2 separate regions of the Homo sapiens genome follow, and region 1 is linked to region 2. Evidence: fine-mapped expression QTL. A gene starts in region 2. The other region holds a variant in brackets. All regions are shown on one strand. Distances are from middle to middle.

Region 1 (8,328 bases), 46 kb before region 2:
CAGCCTCCAGAGTAGCTACTGGGACTACAGGCGCGCGCCACCATGCCCGGCTAAATTTTGTATTTTTAATGGAGACGGGGTTTCACCATGTTGGCCAGGCTGGTCTCGATCTCCCGACCTCATGATCCACCCGCCTCGGCCTCTTAAAGCTCTGGGATTACAGGCGTGAGCCACCGCGGCCGGCTTCGGCCTCTCAAAGTGCTGGGATTACAGGCGTGAGCCACTGCGCCCGGCCTCGGCCTCTCAAACTCTGGATTACAGGCATGAGCCACAGCGCCCGGCCTCGGCCTCTCGAAGCTCTGGGATTACAGGTGTGAGCCACCGTGCCCGGCCAATATTGTACTATAGTTTTGCAAGATATTATCAATGGGGAAAACTGGGTAAAGGATCGCTCTGTATTATTTCTTTGAACTGCATGTACATCCACAATTATCCCAAAATAAAAAGTTTAACGGCCAGGCGTGGTGGCTCACGCCTGTAATCCCAGCAGTTTGTGAGGCCGAGGCAGGTGGATCACTTGAGGTCAGGAGTTCAAAACCAGCCTGATCAACATGGCGAAACCCCGTCTGAACTAAAATACAAAAATTAGCCGGGTGTGGTGGTGGGCGCCTGTAATCCCAGCTACTTGGGAGGCTGAGGCAGGAGAATTGCTTGAACCCAGGAGGCGGAGGTTGCAGCAAGCTGAGATTGTGCCACTGAACTCCAGTCTGGGCAACAGAGTGAGACTCTGTCTCAAAAAAAAAAAAGTTTAACTAAAAAAAAAAAAAAAAAAAAAAAGACAGGGAGTCCAGTCACAGTGATTCACACCTAGAATCCTAGCACTTTGGAAGGACAAGGTGGGAGGATCGCTTGAGCCCAGGCGTTCAAGACCAGCCTGAGCAACATAGTGAGAACTCATCTCCACAAAAAATTTAAAAATTAACCAGGTGTGGCAGCGTGTACATGGAGTCCCAGCCACTCAGGAGGTTTGGGCTGGAGGATTGCTGGAGCCCAGGAGGTTGAGGCTACAGTGAACTATGATGTGCCACTGCACTCCAGCCTGGGTGACAGAGTGAAATCTTGTCTCAAAAACAAAAACAAAACAAAAAACAAAAAAACAGGCCAGGCACAGTTGCTCACACCTGTAATTCCAGCACTTTGGGAGGCCGAGGCATGAAGATCATTTGAGGTCAGGAGTTCGAAACCAGTCTGACCAACATGGTGAAACCTTGTCTCTACTAAAATACAAAAATTAGCTGGGTGTGGTGGCAGGCACCTGTAATCTCAGCTACTCGGGAGCTTGAGGCAGGAGAATCTCTTGAACCCAGGAGGCGGAGGTTGCAGTGAGCTGAGATCATGCCACTGCACTCCAGCCTGGGCAACAGAGTGAGACTCTCTCAAAAAAAAAAGAAGAAGAAAGAAAAAAAAAGAAAACAATAAAACCCCACCAAAACCAAATAAAACCAACAAAACACAGGGCACGTGCTCCAATTCTCCCATACAGCCTTTCCCTGAGCTCCATACAGTTTCTCCATCTGGTGTCATTGGCTCCACAGAGTAATAAGAGACAAGAAGAGGATTGCTTAGACTGCAGCCTGGTTTGGCTGGAGAATCTTTTCTCAGTCTGGGCCACACTGTAAACCATAAGGTTGGCTGTAACAAATTACCACAAACTTAGTGACTTAACAAACTTTTTTTTTTTTTTTGAGATAGGGTCTTACTCTGTTGCCCAGGCTGGAGTACAGTGGCACAATCTAGGCTCATTGCAGCCTCGACCTCCCAGGCTCAGGCAATCCTCCCACCTCAGCCTCCTAAATAGCAGGGACCACAGGCATCCACCACCATGCCTGGTCTTTAAACTGGTGATTTTAACCTTGAGTGCTTGGTTAAGGCAGTGTTTGCTCTGAGTTCCTCCACTGCAAAATAACTACGTTTCTCTTTGCAATTAATAAATATATTTTGAGGAGCAGCTGATGCTTTTAACTACCCTGGAGAGTTTAAAGAAAATGAAAAGCTCTGGCCAGGCACGGTGGCTCACACCTGTAATCTCAGCACTTTGGAAGGCCTAGGGGGGCAGATCACAAGATCAAGAGATCAAGAGATCAAGACCAGCCTGGCCAACATGGCGAAACCCCGTCTCTACTAAAAATACAAAAATTAGCTGAGTGTGGTGGCGCACCTGTAGTCCCAGCTACTCGGGAGGCTGAGGCAAGAGAATCGCTTGAAACCGGGAGGCAGAGGTTGCAGTGAGCCAAGATCACGCCACTGCACTCCAGCCTGGCAACAGAGTGAGACTCCATCTCAAAAAAAAAGAAAGAAAAGCTCAGGTCATTAAATGCTTGGCTCAAGACACAGAGCACCAAGTACTTCGCATGCCTGCCGTATGAGAATTTCTTACCCCTCTAACCACAGGGCTGCTGCAGCTGCAAATCAAAGGTATAATTAACAAATAAGTTAAATTCATACTATTTCCAAGTCTTTTCTGTGAAATCTAGGGCATTGATGGGAAAGTCTGGAAACCTCAAGAATTCAAATGACAACTTTAAAAGGAATCAGATAACTCCAAGTATCATGCACCTTCAAATTATATGCCAATTGAAGTATATAATGACCTTACCAGGGGATACCAGTTTTCTTCATGCCCAGTCCCTACCTATTGATAGTATTAATTCATGTGAATAATAAGCTACACATATTTAAAGTATACAATTTGGCCAGGCGCGGTGGCTCACGCCTGTAATCCTAGCACTTTGGGAGGCCGAGGCGGGCAGATCACCTGAGGTCAGGAGTTCAAGACCAGCCTGGCCAACATGGCGAAACCCCCATCTCTACTAAAAAAAAAAAAAAAATACAAAAATTAGCCGAGCGTGGTGGTGTGCACCTGTGAACCCATCTACTCAGGAGGCTGAGGCAGGAGAATCACTTGAACCTGGGAGGCGGAGGTTGCAGTGAGCCGAGATCGTGCCACTGTACTCCAGCCTGGGCAACAGAGTCAGACTCTGTCTCAATAAATAAATAAATAAATAAATAAATAAATAAATAAATAGTACAATTTGATAAGTTTTGACGTATGTGTATACCCATGAAACTGTAACCACAATGAAGATAATGAACATATCCATTACCTTCAAAAGTTTCCTCTTGACTTTTTTTTTTTTTTTTTTGAGACAGGGTCTTGCTCCCTTTATCGGGCTGGAGTGGAGTGGTGCGATTAAAGCTCACTGAGCCTCAGACTCTCAAGCTCAAGTGATCCTCCAACCACAGCCTCCCAAATAGCTGAGACCACAGGCGTGCACCACCACACCCAGCTAATTGTTTTACTTTTCGTAGAGAGGGGTCTCACTATGTTGCTTAGGGTGGTTTCAAACTCCTGGCCTCAAGCAAGCCTCCTGCCTCTACCTCCCAAACTGCTGGAATCACAGGCATGAACCACCATGCCCAGCCTCCTCTTGACTGTTTGTAATCCTTCGTCTACCCCCTGCCCAGCCCTATCTCTAAGCAACCACTCACCTGCCTTTTGTCACTATAGATTATTTTGCATTTTCTAGTATTTTATATGAATTGGATTATACAATGCATACTATTTTTTTTGAGGGGGGAATCTGCTTCTTTCAGCATTAGTATTTCGTGATCCACCCATGCTGTGTATGTATCAATAGTTCATTACTTTTATTTATTTATGTTTTAGACAGTTTCACTCTATCACCCAGGGTGGAGTGCAGCGGCACAATCTCAGCTCACTGCAACCTCTGCCTCCTGGGCTGAAGCGATTCTTATGCCTCAGCCTCCTGAGTAGCTGAGATTACCGGCACCCACCACCATGCCCAGCTAATTTTTGTATTTTTAGTAGAGATGGGGTTTTGCCATATTGCCCAGGCTGGTCTCCAACTCCTGGGCTCAAATGATCTGCCCGCCTGGGCCTCCCAAAGTGCTAGCATTACAGGCATGAGCCACTGTGCCCGGCATCATTGCTTTTAAATTGTGAAAAGTATTCCTGTGATTTGTTTATCCCTTAACCTATTTATGGACATTGGGTTGTTTCCAGTTTTGTGCCATCACAAATAAAACTACTATGAATATTTTTGTACAAGTCCTTGTTTGGACCTATGCTTTAATTTCTTTGGAACTATACCTAGAAGTGAAACGCTGAGTCATGTGGTAGTATGTGCTTAATTTTTTCAGAAACTGCCAAATTGTTTTTCCAAAATGTACCACTTTACATTCTCATCAACAGAGTATAAGAGCTCTAGTTTCTCCTTCATAGCCAACACTCAGTATAGTCAGTCTTTTTAATTTCAGTCATTCTAATAGG[C/T]GAGTAAGTGGTAGTTCATTGCATTATTTAAAAAAAGAAATTTGACACAGTAAGCCAGGCATGGTGGCTCCCGCCTGTAATCCTGGCACTTTGGGAGGCTGAGGCAGGTGGATCACGAGGTCAGGAGTTCGAGATCAGCCTGGCCAATGTGGTGAAACCCTGTCTCTACTAAAGATACAAAAAATTAGCCAGGTGTGGTGGTGCGCACCTGTAATCCCAGCTACTCAGGAGACTGAGGCAGGAGAATCGCTTGAACCTGGGAGGTGGAGGTTGCAGTGAGCCGAGATCGCATCACTGCATTCCACCCTGGGCGACAGGACAAGTCTCCATCTCAAAAAAAAAATAGAAAAGTAAAGAAAAGAAAAAAAAGAAAGTTGACACAGGAGAAAGCGCAAATGCAGTCCCCCACTGCCACAAACAACGCAGTTGAGTTTCCCACGTTGAGGGAAATTGCAAGGGTTAGCACACCTGGAGTGCAATGGATGCACCTCACCCTGGGAAAACCACCTATGTGATCATGGCATCTCCCCTGCCAGGTAAGTCATTGTGGTTTAAATTTGCATTTCTCTAATGACCAATGACATTGAGCATATTTTATTTGCTAACTTATCATCTATATACCTTCCTTGGTATGGTGTCCGTTCACATCATCTCGTTTTTTTGTTGTTGTTTTATTTTGTTTTTTGAGACAGAGTCTCACTCTGTCAACAGGCTGGAGTGCAGTGGTGTGATCTTAGCTCACTGAAACCTCCGCCTCCCAGGTTCAAGTGATTCTCCTGCCTCAGCCTCCCAAATAGCTGGGACTACAGGCACGCACCACCACACCCTGCTAATTTTTTGTATTTTTAGCAGAGACGGGGTTTCACCCTGCTGGCCAGGCTGGTCTCGAGCTCCTGACCTCAAGTGTTCCACCAGCCTCAGCCTCCCAAAATGCTGGGATTACAGGTATGAGCCACCGCACCCAGCCAATCATCTCCATTTAAAAATGAGGTTGTCTGAATTATTATTACTTAGTTATATGAGTTATTTTAATATATTCTAGGTCCAAGTCCTTTGTCAGATATATGTTTTGCAAATATTTTCTCCCAGTCTGTGGCTTGTCTTTTTATATTCATAACAGTGTTTTTTAAAGAGCTAAAGTTTTTGTTTTTGTTTTTGTTTGAGACGGAGTCTCGCTCTGTCGCCCAAGCTGAAGTGCGGTGGCGCGATCTCGGCTCGCTGTAACCTCAGCCTCCCGGGTTCAAGCGATTCTCCTGCCTCAGCCTCCTGAGTAGCTGGGAATACGGGCTCATGCCACCAAGTGCGGCTAATTTTTTTGTATTTTTAGTAGAGACAGGGTTTCACCATGTTAGCCAGGATGGTCTCGATCTCCTGACCTCGTGATCTGCCCGCCTCGACCTCCCAAAGTGCTGGGATTACAGGCGTGAGCCACCGTGCCCGGCCAAGAGTTAAAGTTTTTAATTTTGGTGAATTCCAATTTATAATGTTTTCTTTTATGGATCATGCTTTTTGGTGTCATAACTAAGAAAATGGTCCCTTAACTAGATCAAAAATATTTTCTCCTATGTTTTCTCTTAGAAGTATCATTTGTAGGCCCGGCACGGTGGCTCACGCCTGTAATCCCAGCACTTTGGGAGGCCGAGGCAGGAGGATCACGAGGTCAGGAGATCGAGACCATCCTGGCTAACATGGTGAAACCCCGTCTCTACTAAAAATACAAAAAATTAGCCAGGCGTGGTGGCAGGCTCCTGTAGTCCCAGCTACTCAGGAGGCTGAGGCAGGAGAATGGCGTGAACCCGGGATGTGGAGCTTGCAGTGAGCCGAGATTGAGCCACTGCACTCCAGCCTGGGCGACAGAGTGAGACTCTGTCTCAAGAAAGTAAAAGTATCATTCATATAGTGCTTACAAGTAGATTTGCTGTCTCATACTCCACTGTTTTGATTACAGTTCACTTGTAGTCTAGATTAGGGTTTGTATTAGAAATATGCGCTTAGAGGTTTTTTGTTTGTTTTGTTTCTTTGTTTGTTTGTTTTTAAATGGAGTCTCCCTCTGTCGCCCAGAGTATAGTGGCGTGATCTCGGCTCACTGCAGCCTCCGCCTCGTGGGTTCAAGCAATTCTCCTGCCTCAGCCTCCTGAGTAGCTGGGATTACAGGCGCCCAACACCACGCCTGGCTAATTTTTGTGTTTTTAGTAAAGGTGGGATTTCACCATGTTGGCCAGGCTGGTCTTGAACTCTTGACCTCAAGTGATCCACCCACCTTGTCCTCTCAAAGTGCTGGGATTACAGGCGTGAGCCACTGCACCCGGCGTACTTACAGTTTTAATTAGAAATGTAAAAATGTTATTTCTTCTGATTTTAAAAATAGAAAATGTTCTCGATTTGGTTTTTAATTCATTTATTTTTAATTACATAAATGACATCAGAGAACAATCTCTTTGTACAAAAAAGAACAAAAGCACATAGAATGGGGAAGCGAAAATCACTGACAAGCACTGTTGATTCAAGAAATCTGGTTTAGCTCACCATTTACGTGTTATTTTCTTGTCTTTATTTTTTTCTTTTTTTAAATTTAGAGACAGGGTCTTACTCTGTCACCTGGGCAGAATGCAGTGGCAGGATCATAGCTCTGTGCAACCCCAGACTCCTGGGCTCAAGCAATCCTCCTTTCTCATCCTCCTGAGTAGCTAGCACTACAGGTGCATGCCACCATGCCCAGGTAATTTTTAAAGTTTTTGCAGAGACAGGATCTCACTATGTTGTCCAGGCTAGTTTCAAACTCCTGGGCTCAAATGATCCTCCCTCCTCGGCCTCCCAAAGTGATGGGATTACAGGCATGAGCCATTGTGTCCAGCCTTACATATTATTTTCACGATTCATTAATCTCCATTTAAAAAAAAATGCTGTATACAGTATGCTGTTGATATATTTTTTCCGTAGCTGTTTTTCTTATTCCAGAAATAACATGAAAGTCTTTGTGTTGGCCGGACGTGGTGGCTTACGCCTGTAATCCCAGAACTTTAGGAGGCCAAGGCGGGTGGATCACCTGAGGTCAGGAGTTCAAGACCAACATGGTGAAACCCCGTCTCTACTAAAACTATAAAAATTAGCCAAGTGTGGTGGTGGGCGCCTGTAATCCCAGCTCCTTGGGAGGGTGAGACAGGAAAATCGCTTGAATCTGGGAGGCGGAGGTTGCAGTGAGCTGAGATTGCGCCATTGCACTCCAGCCTGGGCGACAGAGTGAGACTCTGTCTCAAAAAAAAAAAAGAAGAAAGAGAGAGAAAGAGAGAAAGGAAGAGAGAGAAAGAAAGAAAGAAAAGAAAGAAAGAGAGGAAGGAGGGAAGGAAGGAAGGAAGGAGGGAGGGAAGGAAGGAAGGAAGGAAGGAAGGAAGGAAGGAAGGAAGGAAGGAAGGGAGAGAAAGGAAAGAGGCCGGGCGCGGTGGCTCACGCCTGTAATCCTAGCACTTTGGGAGGCCGAGGCGGGTGGATTACGAGGTCAGAAGTTCGAGACCAGCCTGACCAACATGATGAAACCCCTATCTCTACTAAAAATACAAAAATTAGGCGGGCATGATGGTGCACACCTATAATACCAGCTACTGAGGCAGGAGAATCACCTGAACCCGGGGGACAGAGGTTGCAGTGAGCTGAGATTGTGCCACTGTACTCCAGCTTAGGCGACGGAGCAAGACTCTGTCTCAAAAAAAAAAAAAAGAGAGAGAGAGGGAGAGAAAGAAAAAGAGAAGAAAGAAAAGAAAGAAAGAAAATTCTTTTTGTCACCACAAAAACTTTGTACGTGCAAGTTTAAGTTTAAAAAATAATTCAGAGGATTCAGGCTCTGGAGACAGAAGAAATTCCTATGAGTTACGACTATGTCTTATTGTTCCCTGAGAGGAGGCTTCCCAGGTGGTGCAAAGGCTTTCGGATGTGTTAGAAAACTGAGGTTGAAAGACCTCCTCATCACGTCTGCGTTTCCTAAAGATATTCCAAGAGTTTAGCTGTTGTTTCTCATCTAACTTCAAATGGCTTTCGCCATG
Region 2 (8,328 bases):
ATCCCAGCACTTTGGGAGGCTGAAGCAGGTGGATCACTTGAGGTCAGGAGTTTGAGACCAGCCTAGACAACATGGTGAAATCCGTCTCTACTAAAAATACAAAAAATATTAGCTGGCTGTGGTGGTGCACACCTGTAATCCCAGCTAGTCAGGAAGCTGAGGCAGGAGAATCACTTGAACCTGGGAGGTAGAGGTTGCCATGAGCCAAGATCGCGCCACTCACTCCAACCTGGGTGACAGAGCGAGACTCCATCTCAAAAAAAAAAAAAAAAAAGAAAGGCTGGGTGTGGTGGCTCATGCCTGTAATATCAGCACTTTGGGAGACCGAGGCGGGCAGATCACTTGAGGTCAGGATTTCAAGACCAGCCTGGCGAACATGGTGAAACGGCATCTCTACTAAAAAATACAAAAATTAGCCAGGCATGATGGCGCATGCCTGTAATCCCAGCTACTCCGGAGGCTGAGGCATGAGAATAACTTGAACCCAGGACGCAGAGGTTGCCGTGAGCCAAGATCGCTCCACTGCACTCCAGCCTGGGAAACAGAGCAAGAACGTCTCAAAAAAAGAAAAAGAAAATCAATCAATGTAATACACCACATTAATAGAATGAAGAGGAAACACCAAGTGATCACCTCAATTTATGAACAAAAAGCAAGTGACAAAATCCAACACGCTTTCAAGATAAAAAGCATGTGACAAAGTCCAACACTCGTTCAAGATAAAAAGCATGTGACAAAGTCCAACACTCGTTCAAGATAAAAATGCTGAATAAACAAGGAATAGGTGGAAACTTCCTTCACCTGATAAAGGGCATTTATGAAAAATCCACAAATAACATCATACTTAATGGCGAAAGACCTAAAGCCTTCCCCCAAAGATCAGGAACAAGAGAAGGATACGTGGTTTCACCGTTTCATCTCCTCAACATTGTACTAGAAGTTCTAGCTAGAGCAATTTGGCAAGAAATGAACTTCTGCACTGGGGTGGGAAAAAAAATGGCAAGAAAAAGAAACAAAAGTTAACCAAACTGAAAAAGAGGTAAAACTATTCATAGTCACAGATGACATAATATATACATATATAGAAAATCCTAAGGAATACATGCATACACACAGAGACACACACACACACACACACAGACACGTACACACATACACAAACTTTTAGAGCTAATAAAGTCAGCAAAGTTGCAGAATTCAAGATTAACACACAATAGCCTGGCTCAGTGGCTCGTGCCCGTAATCCAAGCACTTTGGGAGGCTGAGGTGGGTGGATCACTCGAGGTCAAGAGTTCAAGACCAGCTTGGCCAACATGGTGAAACCCTGTCTCTACTAAAAATATAAAAATTAACTGGGTGTGGTGGCGCACGCCTGTAGTCCCAGCTACTAGAGAGGCTGAGGCAGGAGAATCACTTGAACCTAAGAGGCGGAGGTTGCAATGAGGTGAGATCACTCCACTGCACTCCAGCCTGGGAGACAGAGTGAGACTCTGCCTCAAAAAAAAAAAAAAAAAGTTAACACACAAAATTCTGGTTGGGCACAGTGGCTCATGCCTGTAATCCTACCACTTTGTGACGCTGAGGCAGGTGGATCACCTGAGGTCAGGAGTTTGAAACCAGCCTAGCCAACATGGCAAAACCCCGTCTCTACTAAAAATACAAAAATTAGCCGGGTGTGGTGGCATGCACCTGTAGTCCCAGCTACTCGGGAGGTTGAAGCTGGAGAATTGCTTGAACCCGGGGGGCAGACGTTGCAGTCAGCCAAGATCGCGCCACTTCACTCGAGCCTGGGTGAAAGGGCGAAACTCCATCTCAAAACAACAACAACAACAACAAAAATTCAGTTATATTTCTATACACTAACAATGAACAACGTGAAAAGGAAATTAAGAAAACAACTCCATTTACAATAGGATACAAAAGAATAAAATACCTAGGAAAAAATTAACCCAGGAAGTAAAAAACTTGTCCACTGAAAATACAAACACTGGCTGAGCTTGGTAGCTCACTCCTGTAATCCCAGCACTTTGGGAGGCCGAGGTGGGCAGATCACCTGAGGTCGGGAGTTCGAGACCAGCCTGACTAACATGGAGAAACCCTAGTCTACTAAAAATACAAAATTAGCTGGGCATGGTGGTACATGCCTGTAATCCCAGCTACTCCGGAGGCTGAGGCAGGAGAATCACTTGAACCCAGGAGGCAGAGGTTGCAGTGAGCCGAGATTGAGCCATTGCACTCCAGCCTGGGCAACAAGAGCGAAACTCTGTCTCAAAATAATAATAATAATAATAGGGCTGGGCGCAGTGGCTCACACCTGTAATCCCAACACTTTGGGAGGCCAAGGTGAGTGGATCACCTGAAGTTAGGAGTTCGAGACCAGCCTGGCTAACATGATGAAACCCCATCTCTACTAAAAAATAATACAAAAAATTAGCCAGGCATGGTGGTGCACTCCTGTAATCCCAGCTACTCAGGAGGCTGAGGCAGGAGAATCACTTGAACCTAGGAGGCAAGGTTGCAGTGAGCCAAGATCGCGTCATTGCACTCCAGCCTGAGCAAGAAGAACAAAATTCTGTCTCAAATAATAATAATAATAATAAATAAAAAATAAAACACTGAGGAGGTCAAAGAAAATCCACATGGCAGCATGTCTGACTTCTGAGCCTCCAGTCTATAAGGCCTGTGCTGAAAGGATCTGCACTTACTTTTCTCCTCTTTACAGCCAAGGTCACCAGTGGAAACTCTCAAGGACAATACCTGTGTCTCCTCCAAGGCCCATCCCTCGTGCCTAACACAGTTCCTGGCAGAGACCAGGTACTCAGTGTGTGTTTTTGCTCTGGGCTGCAAAATAAAGGTTTTCTGATCACTCTTCAACTCAACAACCTTGGCACCCTACTGCCTGTGGAATAGTGGGACAAACACTTTATCCTTATTTGAAGCCCTGCCCAGTCTGTCCTGACATCCCAAGATTCAGAGCACTCTGCCCTATAGGGGCCTCCCTGGCTCAGCCTAAAAAGTTGAGTAATATACGGTAATTGATTTAGCAGTGGCAGTGTCTGCCCTTCCCACGGCCTCTCCTGTTCTAAAGAGTCCACAGATGAATTAATCCACAAATACTTATTAAGAGTATAGTGGCCTGATATTGGAATGTTCAAAGCCTTCTGCTTAAGAGTTTGTGTGCGGCCGGGCGCGGTGGCTCACACCTGTAATCCCAGCACTTTGGGAGGCCGAGGTGGGCGGATCAGGAGGTCAGGAGATCCGAGACCATCCTGGCTAACACGGTGAAACTCCGTCTCTGCTAAAAATACAAAAAATTAGCCGGGCGTGCTGCATGCGCTAGTAGTCCCAGCTACTCGGGGCTGAGGCAGGAGAATCGCTTGAACCTGGAAGGCAGAGGTTGCAGTGAGCCGAGATCGCGCCACTGCGCTCCAGCCTGGGCGACAGAGCGAGAATCCGCCTCAAAAAAAAAAAAAAAAAAAAAAAAAGAGATTGTGTGTGTTGGGGAGCAGGGCATGTGGACACAAGGTCTCCGCCCTAGGAGAAGTGCTGGAGAGTAGGACAAGTACCACTACTTCGGACGGGGAGGGCGATGCCTCCAATGGGGGGCTTCCCTGATTCCTGCAGATCATACGTTGGCCCCCAACTTCACACTGGCCAGAATCCCGGTTCTAGTCTTTTCCGTGCCACCAACCCCTGGGCCCTCTTTCTAGAAGGAAAGAAAACACCTTTGGCCTCTGCCCAGAGCTACAGACACCTGAAGTAGGAGCAGGCAGGAGATGCGTGGTGGATAAAGACCAGAGAGACTTGGGATCGAATTCCACTCTCACCCCCAGTTCAGTTTTCTTCAGCTTGCTGCTCCACAGGCAGGATGTGAAAATTTAGATGCCTCACCCCTCGCACCTCCAGCTTGCTGCTCCAAATAGGCAGGATGTGAAAATGTAGATGCTTCCCCCCCAACCTCTATAAAACAGGGCCGACGAGGATGGGATTCGAACCCACGCGTGCAAAGCACAATGGATTAGCAGTCCATCGCCTTAACCACTCGGCCACCTCGTCCTACGTGACAGGTTTGTCCACATTCACTTATCTCTCATCTACTCCGCACCTTCCAAGCACTACCACGTAAGTCGCAACGCAGACCTCTTCGGACACAGGGAAAGAAGAAGCCGCGGAAGGAAGGGAGCGTTTTGATTTCCTTTCTGCTGAGCCCGCGCCATCCTTTACCACGCTGCAGCCGAGCTCTGCCGCGGTTTCCCTCCGAGTCCGGCCGAGCGCGCCGCGCGTTCAGGGCGCGCCCGGTCCAGGGTGCGCGCGCCGGCGGGGAGGGAGAGGAGTGCGTCCCGGGAAGCCGGCGGGGCCCGGGCGGGCGGGCGTCTGCACGGCGCGCGGCCGAGCGGCGGGGCCGTGGCTCCTCCTCCCTCGTAGGGGGCGAGCCGGCGCGCCGGGGGCTGGGGGCGGTGGCGGGCGGCGGGCGGCGGGCGGCGGGCGGCGGGCGGGGCGGCGCTCGGGGCTCGGCTGGCCTCGGCTCGCCTCGGCTGCGCTCGGCAGGCTGCGGTAAATCCGGGCTTGCGGCCGCTGGCGTAGTCTGTGGCCGGGTGGTCGTTGCTGCGCGCCCCGAGCCCCGAGAGCCATGCAGATGTCCTACGCCATCCGGTGCGCCTTCTACCAGCTGCTGCTGGCCGCGCTCATGCTGGTGGCGATGCTGCAGCTGCTCTACCTGTCGCTGCTGTCCGGACTGCACGGGCAGGAGGAGCAAGACCAATATTTTGAGTTCTTTCCCCCGTCCCCACGGTCCGTGGACCAGGTCAAGGCGCAGCTCCGCACCGCGCTGGCCTCTGGAGGCGTCCTGGACGCTAGCGGCGATTACCGCGTCTACAGGGGCCTGCTGAAGACCACCATGGACCCCAACGATGTGATCCTGGCCACGCACGCCAGCGTGGACAACCTGCTGCACCTGTCGGGTCTGCTGGAGCGCTGGGAGGGCCCGCTGTCCGTGTCGGTGTTCGCGGCCACCAAGGAGGAGGCGCAGCTGGCCACGGTGCTGGCCTACGCGCTGAGCAGCCACTGCCCCGACATGCGCGCCAGGGTCGCCATGCACCTCGTGTGCCCCTCGCGTTACGAGGCAGCCGTGCCCGACCCCCGGGAGCCGGGGGAGTTTGCCCTGCTGCGGTCCTGCCAGGAGGTCTTTGACAAGCTAGCCAGGGTGGCCCAGCCCGGGATTAATTATGCGCTGGGCACCAATGTCTCCTACCCCAATAACCTGCTGAGGAATCTGGCTCGTGAGGGGGCCAACTATGCCCTGGTGATCGATGTGGACATGGTGCCCAGCGAGGGGCTGTGGAGAGGCCTGCGGGAAATGCTGGATCAGAGCAACCAGTGGGGAGGCACCGCGCTGGTGGTGCCTGCCTTCGAAATCCGAAGAGCCCGCCGCATGCCCATGAACAAAAACGAGCTGGTGCAGCTCTACCAGGTTGGCGAGGTGCGGCCCTTCTATTATGGGTTGTGCACCCCCTGCCAGGCACCCACCAACTATTCCCGCTGGGTCAACCTGCCGGAAGAGAGCTTGCTGCGGCCCGCCTACGTGGTACCTTGGCAGGACCCCTGGGAGCCATTCTACGTGGCAGGAGGCAAGGTGCCCACCTTCGACGAGCGCTTTCGGCAGTACGGCTTCAACCGAATCAGCCAGGTGCTCATAAGGGAGAGGGCAGGGGTAATGGGGCAGGAGGGGTGGTGGGATCAGGGAGTTATGAGGAGTGGCCCTGGATGGAAAGGAGGCAATGAAGCAGGAGGGATCATAGTTCAGGAGGTGGGTGGATGGTGTGGAAGATCCAGGATACTTCCAGAGGGGTGAGGACGCTGGACTGTGGCTTTAGGGAAGTCAGTCTCAGGCCTGTCAATGTCATCAAACTTTGCTAACCTGTCTTTCCTCCTGCAGGCCTGCGAGCTGCATGTGGCGGGGTTTGATTTTGAGGTCCTGAACGAAGGTTTCTTGGTTCATAAGGGCTTCAAAGAAGCGTTGAAGTTCCATCCCCAAAAGGAGGCTGAAAATCAGCACAATAAGATCCTATATCGCCAGTTCAAACAGGAGTTGAAGGCCAAGTACCCCAACTCTCCCCGACGCTGCTGAGCCCTTCCCTCCCCTAATCTGAGAAGTCAGCCTCTTGGCTCCTCAGGCCACCATTTAGGCCTGACTGGGGTAAGAAATGTCGCTCCACTTTACAGAGGTAGCTGTGGTGTTGAAACACTGGACTTGGATATGGGGTGCTGGGATCGATTCCTAGCTTTACCACTAACTAGCTGTGTGGCCTTGAGTAAATCCCGTTACCTCTCTGAGCCTCGGTTACCCTGTCTGTAAAAAGGGAGGTGAGAATACCTACCTCACGGAACTGTTGGGAGGCTCAGATGAGATGCTATATGTGAAAACATTCTGTAAGCTTCGTACAAATGTGAAGTATTAATATTATCGCAGTATTATTGTTGTTATTATTATTGTTATTATTAACAATCTTGGGTGGGTAGTAGGAGAGCAAAAAGTATGAATGGGATGGAGCTAAGAAGTCTGAATACTTAATGAAATGGACTTTTTGGAAAGAAATCAGATGAAGGCATAAAATTTAGTTCTTAGCTCTTGAACAGAAGCCTAAAATTCCTGGTTCTCTCAGGGCTTCGCCTTCAAGGGTTCTGGAGGAGGGAAGGGTCTGCAGGTTCCATGGGTGACAGCCTGAGATCTGTCCCTTCAACGGGCTGGGCTGGGTATGTGCCTACCGATGACAATGTGTAAATAAATGCGTGTTCACACCCACAGCTGGCTCCGTTACTCTCCTGAGCTGGGGGTGGGGGGATCGGGGCCGGCTTCTCCCCTTGCACGCCGTGGGGAGATGGCCGCGGACGAAGGGCACCGTCTGCAAAGCACTGAACCATCAGGGCCTTCCCTGCAGGCCGAAGGCCTGCGCGAATGTCGGCCAGTTACTATGGAGACCGGCCCGCGGTATCCCAGCATGCCTCGGGACCAAACTGTCCAACTGTGAGCATCCCCGACGGTCGCCTCCTGATGACGCACACGGAAGCACCGATAGGCTCTGCCTCCCGAAGAAAAGGGAGCCGCGCAGCGCCTACGGGAGTCCGGCGGCAGCAGCCGGTACCGGCAACCACGGGCAGCTCTCAGGGAATCTCCGTCGTGAGGCCAGAGGCTCCAGTCCCCGCGGTGCGTATCGTCATGCATGGCTTTTGGTTCGCCCTCTCCGGTTAGTCGAGCAGGGCCGGCACAACCTCCTCCTCCGAGGCCGAAGCAGAGATTTAACCGGCCTGACGCGTGCTGGGCTGCGGGCGAGCCAGTGATATTCCGGCCCGCTCCGGCGCATCTAGAAGGGAGCGGGAGGCCCCCTGGGCGCTGCGGAGAAGCTGGATTGACCTCTGCGAGAGTGGGGAGGGTCTGCCTTCCCTAGGGGCCTGCCCCGGAGGAGCTGCCATTCTGAAAAGATAAATTGCCTGTGTACAGCGCTTTACAGTGTGCTTTTCCATCCCTTACCACCTGTGAGCTCCTCAACACTCAGAGCAGGAATGGTTATCCGCTTTTTGCACCCGGGGTAAGGTGGGAAGGTTGTGACTTAACTCACTCATAATCAGAACCAGGGGGAGGAAAGAAAGGCTTCTGGAAGAGATAGACTTAAGCTGCATCTTACAAAGTGAATATACTAACAGTGAAGAGGCATTGCAAATGTTGGGAACTGAGGCTTGATAACGGGAAGATGAAGCTGGTTTAGAGAACCGAGCCTTTCAAGTCAGGTGCAGGTCATTAGTGAAATTGTTGAGGAATATGACTAAACACTCACCTAGGCCAGGCTTACTATACACAACTTGAACTGGTGTCAAGGAAAGCTTGCTACCATTACAGGGACCTGGGACTACCGAAAAGTAAAAACTAATGTCTGTCTCACAAAAAATTTTTTTGTTAAATTTGTATTTGCAAATCCTCCAGTCATCAAGTGAACCAGCACTGTGCTAGGTAAATAAGTTACATGTGCAGCCCCTGCCCTAGTGAGGCTCATAGACTGATTGCGGGGACAGATATGAGAACAGGCAAATAGATATAAACAAAGCTTCCTGGAGGGAGTGGTGTCTGCACTGTTCTAAAGGACTACAAAGCAGTGTCCAGAGAAGTTGGAAGAACACAATAAAATAGAAGCCTGCAGGAGGTTGAGAGATTATCTGCTGAGAGGACTGTTTTCTTCTTCTTAGGTGATCTCTTGGCAGTACTTGGCACTATCAGTGCAATTACTCCTTGGCAGTACTTGGCTTTCTTCTAAAACTCTTTCTCCACCACTTCGG

Which allele goes with the higher level. Alleles are on the strand shown, and positions count from the first base shown. SD is a standard deviation of normalised expression in the study named.
For the expression in visceral fat of the gene that starts at base 4,547 in region 2, allele C in region 1 goes with a higher level than allele T (small effect, 0.18 SD a copy in GTEx).

What was found. PIP is the estimated chance that this variant, and not a neighbour inherited with it, causes the effect. A credible set is the group of variants that fine-mapping cannot tell apart.
Region 1: its variant is the best candidate, but not a certain one, in a credible set for the expression of B4GAT1 in visceral fat (GTEx, PIP 0.64).

Annotation. Positions count from the first base shown.
Region 1 is chr11:66,389,956-66,398,283 of GRCh38, reverse strand. It overlaps the pseudogene BRD9P1 and the pseudogene RNU1-84P. Among named protein-coding and RNA genes, the nearest start is that of SLC29A2, 22 kb to the right of the region's middle. The variant C/T (reference allele first, on the strand shown) is at 4,292.
Region 2 is chr11:66,343,848-66,352,175 of GRCh38, reverse strand. B4GAT1 (beta-1,4-glucuronyltransferase 1) reads left to right here and starts at 4,547. Exons shown (of 2, transcript NM_006876.3): 1 at 4,547-5,686; 2 at 5,936-6,802. The coding sequence starts at 4,631. The coding sequence ends at 6,127. BRMS1 (BRMS1 transcriptional repressor and anoikis regulator) reads left to right here and starts at 7,072. Exons shown (of 10, transcript NM_015399.4): 1 at 7,072-7,204. B4GAT1-DT (B4GAT1 divergent transcript) reads right to left here and starts at 4,185. Exons shown (of 2, transcript NR_135761.1): 1 at 4,106-4,185. TRS-GCT3-1 (tRNA-Ser (anticodon GCT) 3-1) reads right to left here and starts at 4,056; the gene lies at 3,975-4,056. RefSeq lists enhancers at 3,387-3,887, 6,897-7,326, 6,782-7,332 and a silencer at 3,914-4,503.